Linked DNA regions of Homo sapiens: region 2 is linked to region 1. Evidence: fine-mapped expression QTL. Tissue or cell type: whole blood. Region 1 holds a variant in brackets; the other region holds the start of a gene. All regions are shown on one strand. Distances are between the middles of the regions.

The links.
Region 2: CCR3 starts here. The variant in region 1 is fine-mapped to the expression of CCR3 in whole blood (TOPMed, PIP 0.98).

Annotation. Positions count from the first base shown.
Region 1 is chr3:46,261,900-46,266,439 of GRCh38, reverse strand. CCR3 (C-C motif chemokine receptor 3) reads right to left here. Exons shown (of 2, transcript NM_178329.3): 2 at 1-1,292. The coding sequence starts at 1,281. The coding sequence ends at 214. Among named protein-coding and RNA genes, the nearest start is that of CCR3, 22 kb to the right of the region's middle. The variant G/T (reference allele first, on the strand shown) is at 2,490.
Region 2 is chr3:46,240,402-46,244,401 of GRCh38, reverse strand. CCR3 (C-C motif chemokine receptor 3) reads right to left here and starts at 1,942. Exons shown (of 2, transcript NM_178329.3): 1 at 1,864-1,942. RefSeq lists an enhancer at 1-8.

The sequences.
Region 1 (4,540 bases):
GATGATGAGTACGCTGCCCAGCCCCTGGCCTGTGGTAATGACCTTAGGGTACATGCATCTACTGCTACTGCTGTGTGTATATTTCAGTGTCTTCAAGAGCTTCAGTGTTGCACTGGAAGTTTGAAGGACTGTTTTAGAGGTGAGTGTGGAAGGCTTAATGTGTTTGCTTCATCTCCTTGGTCCTTCCTCTTTAGGCAATTTTCTGCATCTGACCTAAAACACAATAGAGAGTTCCGGCTCTGCTGTGGATGGAGAGACAGAGCTGGTTCTTTCCAGCTTCTCACTAGGAAGGAATGGGATGTATCTGCCCAGGTGCATGAGCAAGTGCCTGTGGAAGAAGTGGCGCAGGTACTTCCGGAACCTCTCTCCAACAAAGGCGTAGATCACCGGGTTCATGCAGCAGTGGGAGTAGGCGATCACCTCTGTCACCAGCATGACCAGGTCCAGATGCTTGCTCCGCTCACAGTCATTTCCAAATAAGATGGATTGATAGGAAGAGAGAAGGATAGCCACATTGTAGGGTGTCCAGAAAATGAAAAACACCGCCATGATGACAAAAATGAGCCGGATGGCCTTGTACTTTTTTTTACTGGGGCACCTCAGCAGCGTTTTGATGATTCCTGTGTAGCAGATGGCCATAACGAGCAGAGGGAGAACGAGACAGAAGATGGTCATTCTCAGAGTGTGGAAATGCCTCCAGCTATATACTGTATCCTCTGGGTAAAGAGCACTGCAAAGAGTCTCTTCAAACAACTCTTCAGTCTCATAGAAGATAAATTCAGGAAGAGCTGCTAGCACTGCCAGGCCCCAGGTGACGATGCTGGTGATGACACCAAAAGTGACAGTCCGGGCTCGAAGGGCAAACACAGCATGGACAATGGCCAGGTACCTGTCGATTGTCAGCAGGATTATGAAAAAGATCTCGCTGTACAAGCCTGTGTGATAAAACCCTGAGAGGAGCTTACACATGCCATGGCCAAAAACCCAGTTATGCCCCCTGACATAGTGGATCCAGAATGGAAGGGTGACGAGGAAGAGCAGGTCCGAAATGGCCAGGTTGAGCAGGTAGATGTTGGTCATAATTCGGAGCCTCCTGTATTTTATGAGGATCATCACCACCACCACATTGCCCAAGAGGCCCACAGTGAACACCAGGGAGTACAGCGGGGGCACAAACTGGGCCATCAGTGCTCTGGTATCAGCTTTTTCACAGAGCAGGCCCACGTCATCATAGTAGGATGTGGTACCAAAGGTCTCAACTGTATCTAGTGAGGTTGTCATTTCACTTCTCCCTGTGATAGAAGAAGAAAAATACAATCCCACAATGAAGCATAATCATCCTTCGTAAAACACACCAGTTGATTTATTCATGTACTCAACAAAGATGCCACATGTGATAGCAGCCTAGGGATTCTTTAACATGAATTTCAAAAGGCATATCAGAGGTGCCAGGAAAAGGATTGAGGAAGGAAAGAGCTGAAGCTTTCAAAGTTAGCATGACCCGGCATGGGAAAAGAAGCAGAAATGTTGTGGGGTGGTGGTGAAGAATGGGGATACAGATTTCTGAAAGCATTTAAAGGAAGAAATACAAAACAGGAAAAAACAGGCTAGATAATGATAACAATATAATAATCATTATTATTACTACTGTCTCTTACGGCATTTTGCATTTTATGTTTTACAGTTTACATATACCTTAAAAATCCTTATCCATTTAAAAGCAAAATATGTATAATAATAATAACAATGATTATTACAATTACAAGTAATTATGCTTCTCCAGGGCCCCATAATGATGAGCCATTCATTATAGTTAATGGGGAAATTGAACCTTGAAGAAATTTAGTAATTTGTTCAAAATCCTCTAACAAGTAAATATAAAATTTGGGCTAGATCTTTAGTCTCTATCCATGTCCATTTCTCCTGTCACTAGATTCAAATGTAGTGATTTTTAAATTTAACTTTTGAAAAATTTGCTACGGACTTGAGGAACCTGGCTTGTGTGCTCTTAACAGCATTCTTATTCCAAATGGCATAATCCAATCCACAGCAGCTGTGAAAAAAATACACATTTTGTCTGTTACACATGTACAATCACAGTAATTAACTATTACAATAATTACAATTATAAGCAGCATTAGTTTAGGTTACTTTCCTTTTCTTGCCCCTGGTGATGCTGAGTTAGGCCTGGTAACATGCAAAAAGCAAACCCCTGGGAGCTTCTCCATCACAAAGGGGTAAGCAGGAGGGGTCAGTCAATGGGATTTCTCACTGGACTTGATATTTCTTAGGCCAGGAGCCCTAAGGCCAGTGCCTGCTTTTCTTGAGATTATAGACTTCGGTGGAAAAGGAGGAAAATAGAAAACAGATAAGGCAGGAGTCATGGAAGGACAGTTAAGCCATGCACTAGTTCCTCAGAGGGCATCCAACTGACTTTCTCCTTTCTAGGAGGAAGGGACAAGGGTGAAGATGTGAATATACAGGCCGAT[G/T]GGCATTTCTCAAGGTAAATCTGAGAAATGCTTAATAACTGGGGCCAATGCGGGGAATTGTTTTTGCTTCTTAATAGAATAATTGATCGAATACTGAGGCCCCACATGTTGGGGTTCTGGGTAGTCAAAGTCAGTGAGAATAGAGATGGAAATGGAGCCAGTCCTAGCGCCTCTCAGCTGCGTGCCTTGGACAAGCCCTTAATGCAGAGCCTCCTTTACTTATATCGAAAGTGAGGACCATTGGGTCACTTGGGGTTGTGATGAGGAAAAATGAGAGTGTATGTGAGTTCACATTTGAAACCAGAAAAAGCTGTAAAACTGGTAGGAAGCAGGAATGAAAGAAGGACAATTAGAAGCCATTTCAAATGAAATTAGGAAAAATAGGGTCCCTTGGGTGGAACTTGTTGATCTCTTTTCATGGGTCTGTCCAGGTACATCTCCCACTGATCAATGGCACATTCCAGGCTTTTGAGGAGGAAAATGGACTGAGGAACAAATGGTTTGTGTGTGCTCCCATCAGCATTCTTATTCATAATAGCATAATCCAATCCATAGCAGCTGAGAAAAAAAATACACATTTTGTCAGTTACACACGTACAATCACAGAGTGTCCTTCTGCACTTCAGCATCTAAAGCAAGAAAAGAACAGAACTGCTAATTCTGGAGAACAAAGGTATAGTAGCCTGTATTCACCGTTAATTATTTGTATTTATTTTCCTTTTTCTCCAAGAGTGATTTAAAAACAGGTCAAACTTTAAAAAAATTACTTAAGTTTTGCTCAGTTTGAGGGTAGTGTCTTTAATTCATGTGTTATTTCTATAAAATCAACATGATCGGGATGATAAACCATAGAACCTTTTGGTTTGGGTTTCAGGGCTGCCTATGAGCTTTTAGCACTGAAGTTCACAGCTCAAGAAAGCATGCAGGTCCTCCAGAGTCAGCAGCCAAGTCCTTGATTACTAGCTGCATGGGATCAGAGACAGAAAATCTCATATGGGCAGGGGACCTTGGCTCATGCCTGTAATCCCAGTACTTTGGGAGGCCCAGGTGGGAGGCTCACCTGAGCCCAGGAATTCAAGACCAGCCTGGACAATATAGTGAGATCCTATCTCTACAAAAAAATAAGAAATTAGCCAGGCATGGTGGCGCATACGTGTGGTCCCAACTACTTGGGGGGCTGAGGTGGGAGAATCCCTTGAGCCTAGAAGGTTGAGGCTGCAGTGAACTGTGATCACGCCGCTGCACTCCAGCCTGGGCGACAGCCAGACTCCATCTCAAAAAATAAATAAATAAATAAATAATTAAAAATTAAAAAATTAAAAACCTGATATGGTTTTCACCTGTCTACCCAGTCTCAATCAAGGTGAATACTTAGATACAAAATAGTGAAGAGGTTTGAATTAGGCTTTCAAAATGGCCTTTTACATTTTGGAAAACGATAGGGTAATCGTAAATAAGTAAGAACAATAAGAAAGAAGAGCACAAAAACGAAAGTAAAAATCACCCAATCTCCTCATGCAGCATTTACCACTGTTAACATATCTCTGTGCAGATATGGATGCCCGTGTGCAAGATTTACAAAAGTGAGGTCAACTAAAATTACTCACAATACAACTCAGCAGTGAAATGTGCAATGATTCTTTAGTCTCCAAACTATTTTGGTCTCTGTTACCAGCTTCTCATCTGCTGGATAGCAGGAAAAAGGATTCACACATTTTAGTCCAAAGTGGTTTAAACTTCTCTTGATTCATTCATTTGAACAATGATTTTAGGTTTTACTCATCCTCTTTATGCTGTCAGCTTATAATTTCAGTTTCTTCTTTCAGTGTTCCTTTCTAAGATGGTGGCAGAGATCTGGAGGAAGGGCCACTACAACTTGAGACATGGGGCAGAGTGGGAAGGGGGTGTTCCTGTCTCCTGTTGGTCCTTGATTTATATGACTGGTGTCTGCTGAGTGGGGGTGACCTGGTTCCAACGCTGAGCCTTTTTCTGGAACCTGCTGTGGTGGTTTGTAGCTAATATACTCATGAGGTATTCATTCTTAGTCTTCC
Region 2 (4,000 bases), 22 kb after region 1:
TTGGTGGTCTCTTCACACGGACGCGCATGAAAGATAGTACACTTGTATATCATTTTGTATTCTGATACCTTAACTTCTTTACCTTTCACCTAGTTCCTTGTGGCTAAAAATTACTTAAAAATGTAATTTGTAATGACTCCAACATATTGTATAGATAATCATGCTTATTTAACCATTGCCTTTTTGTTGTGTGATTAAGTTATTCACAATTTGCTCTGCTATAAATAATACTGCAATAAACATATTTGTGTGCATTTTAAAATTATTTCCTTAAGGTATATTACACAAATCACAATTTCTACATTGAATTATATTTCGAAGTCTCTTGATGCATTTTGTCAAATTGCTTCCAGAAAGTGTGTAACAATATATATACTCTTGGCACTAGTAGGTGATGGTGCCCATTTCAGCAAGCATCCATCAATATGGAGAAGATCTAAAAGAAAGAAAAAATTACTTGGCCAATTAGATGGGCAAAAGGGTTGCCATTATTGTTGTAATTAACATTTATTTCATTACTGATTTTTTTTAACTACAAGTATTAGTCATTCATATTTCCCTTCCTGTGATTTATCTCTTTGTGCCCTTTACCCAATTTATTCTGCTGTACAGATCTGCTTTTTTCTTATTAAGTCATACAAAGGGCTCATATTTCTTCTCCCAGAAGAGCTAACTCATCCTGCGTGGTTCAGTGTAATCATCACCATTTTCTGGAAAGAGCTGCACTTCAAAAATATACTTCAACTTATACCACATCCATGTGGAAGACCCCTTATTCCCACCACTCTCACTTGAAGTACTTGTCAAAGTTAACACTCATCCTCTGTCAATCCAGGCGTTTCCAGAAGAATCGGTAAGGCTTTCTAGCTCTACCCTCTAACACAGACAATCTCATTCACCCAGAAAAAAAGACACCAAATCAATCAACTGACTCATCTAGTAGCTTGATTTAGTGTGGATTTTCAATGAAAACTTCAAATAAATATATATATTTCCACACATACATACTTAATGCACACACACATATGTATATAATCAGCCCTCTGTATCCATGGGTTCCACATTTGTGTATTCAACCAATCACGGATCAAAAATATCTGGGAAAAAGCTCCACAAAGTTGCAAAAACCAAGCCTTGAATTTGCCACGCAGCAAGTGCTATGTTGACTCCACATGAATGAAGCGCTCTGTATGCGTTGTATTAGGTATTACAAGTAATCTAGGTACTTGTATTTAAAGGGTACTGGAGGATATTTGTAGGTTATCAGCAAATACTACATCATTTTATATAAGGAACTTGAGCATCTATGAATTTTGGTATCTGCAAGGGTCCTGGAACAAATCCCTCACAGATACTGAGGGAGGACTTTGTATATATAAAAATGTATGTGTGTGTGCGTATATATATATATATATATATGTGTATATATATATATATACACATATATATGTAAAATTATATTTTTGCTATTTCTTACAAGTCAATATAAATAAACACAAGCTATTAAGTGTAAGCTCTTTGGAGTAGTCATATGCACATAGTTGAGAATTTGTGAAAGTATAGGAGGGTAACATGGGCACAGATGTTGACTAAAGAGGTATAAAGGGCCAAGTTTGGGTGAGTGCTACACGCAAACTTATCATTGTGTGGATGGGAGACAGAAAGGGAAAATTAGAAAAAGCAAGAAGAAAATGGAGATATGTGGCCATATTTTCTCCCACTCTGGCCCCATACTACCTCTAAATTGCTGTGTACCTTCCTCTCCTCCCTCCTAGATCCAAGAGCACTGCTGGAAGTTACTACTTCCACCTGCCTGGACCCCTCCTTGTTCCACCTCCCTTTTCCTGGAAAAGCGACACCTACCTGAAAATCTCTTCTAAGTAAAAACTTCTATTGTATTTCGATAAGTTCTTGCCCGGATAAGCACAAGAAGACCAGTGGTACCTGCTAATTTAGTGAAGTCCTTGATATGTCCAGTGATAGCTTAGGCGTCACCACTCCTGAAACAGAGATACCATCAGATCACAGACATTAGTAAAGTAGTAAACAATGTAAGTATATAACTTCCTGTTTTAAACAGACTAGCTTCTCAGTTTTGCAAGTTTTCAGAAAGATACTTTCGTGCAGTTCTTCTTTTTCATGATTGACACCACATACTAACCAGTCACCTGAGAAATCCTTGCAATTAGTGCTGCTTTAGGGGCTCTCCACCCATTGGCATTGCTCATTTTTAGTGGTGGGGGGTTGTTATAATTTTTTTTTTTTTTTTAAGACAGGATTTCATTCTGTCACCCAGGCTGGAGTACAGTGGCATGATCTCAGTTCACTGCAACCTCCACCTCCTGGGTTCAAGGGATTTTCCTGCCTCAGCCTCTGGAATAGTTGGTATTAGAGGCACATGCCACCATGCCTGGCTAATTTTTGTATTTTTAGTAGAGACAGGGTTTCACCATGTTGGCCAGGCTGGTCTCAAACTTCTGACCTCAAGTGATCTGCGAGTCTCGGCCTCCTAAAGACCTGGGATTTATAATTCTTGAATAAGCATTGATTTGACTCATCGGGAGACAGGATGAAGAATGAAATAAGAATTTCCCGGCAAAGGAATAAACTAATTATTCTGCAGGGTCCAGTAGACACTTGGATGGGGCAAAATGTGGCTGCAAAGGTTTAGACAAGTCTAAAAGACTTGAGTTTGAGTTTCAGTTGTGGCATACACAGCTACATAAGCTGGGGGTAGTAATTTAAACTTGCTGGACCTCAGCTTTTTCATCTCTAAACTGGAAATAATGATATTTAAGTCATAGCATTGCCGTGGAACCAACTAAGATAAATATGTGAAAAGTCTCTGCAGAATATACAGGGCTAAGGAAATGTAAAGTGTGGGTAGAATGCCACTGTGACATAAGCGTCATAGGGCAGAGCCATGTCTCAGGGCAAAGCGTCACAGGGCAGAGCCATGTGCCTGCTGTATGTGCTGATGTGTCCCTTGGGACCTAGCATGGCACTGGGCACAGAGCAGGTATTCACCCAATATTTGTGGGAAGAACTCTGACTAAGCATGAAGTGATCTTTGATACACTGACTAACTCGACAAATGAGTGTAATGCACCAAAGTGTTTATCAAACGTTTGATATGTGTGTAGGACTGTGCTGTATGCTTCATGATAAAGAAAACATAGGAACAAAAGACAAAGAAAGAGGAAGGAGGATAAGAGAGACAGAGAGAGAGAGAGAGCGCACACACATGTGCATTAGAGAGAGAGAGAAAGAATAGGGAGAGAATTTGAGAGAAAGAGAAGAAAGGGAGGAAGGGGCTCAGTTTCCACCTTAAAGAGTCTATAACCTTGTTGGTGATCAGAGACAACAGAGACCTGATAAAATATCAAGAATGCTCAAATATAGTTAAAGCATAACCAAAGAAACATTTCACTATTTAATCTACAGCATATTCAATATAGCATATTCAAATTGGCTAAAACAAAATTTTCGACTGATAGTAAGATCTCAGACTTTGCTGCTGGACACCTGAATGCAAAACCTACCTTTACCGCTTAATAGGGATATCACCGTGGGCAAGCTACATAACCTCTGTGTGCCTCAGCGTGCTCTACTGCAAAATGATGTAGCAATGCCTAGCTTGTAGGATCTGTGTGAGGAGCAAATAAATTAGGACTACGTGGAGGCCAGTGTGTGGCATGTGGACAGCGTCATGAAAATACTTATCATAGTTGTCATGACAGACCCTCTCAGTGAGAAAGAGGCAGCCACTCAGGGTGGTCTGAAATATAGTATAATATATTGTGCTCTGATTCAGCATGTGGGATGTCAAATGCAAGTTCTACAGGGTTTAGAAAACAGGACCATGTGGGCTGAAGGGACTGGGAACGGCTTCATGGAAGAGAAAGGGCCCGAGGGATGAACAGAATTTGGCCATGTGGAAGGGGTAGGGAGAGTTTCCAGGAAAAAGGAAGTAGAGCTACCAAGACCAAGAGGTGAGGTG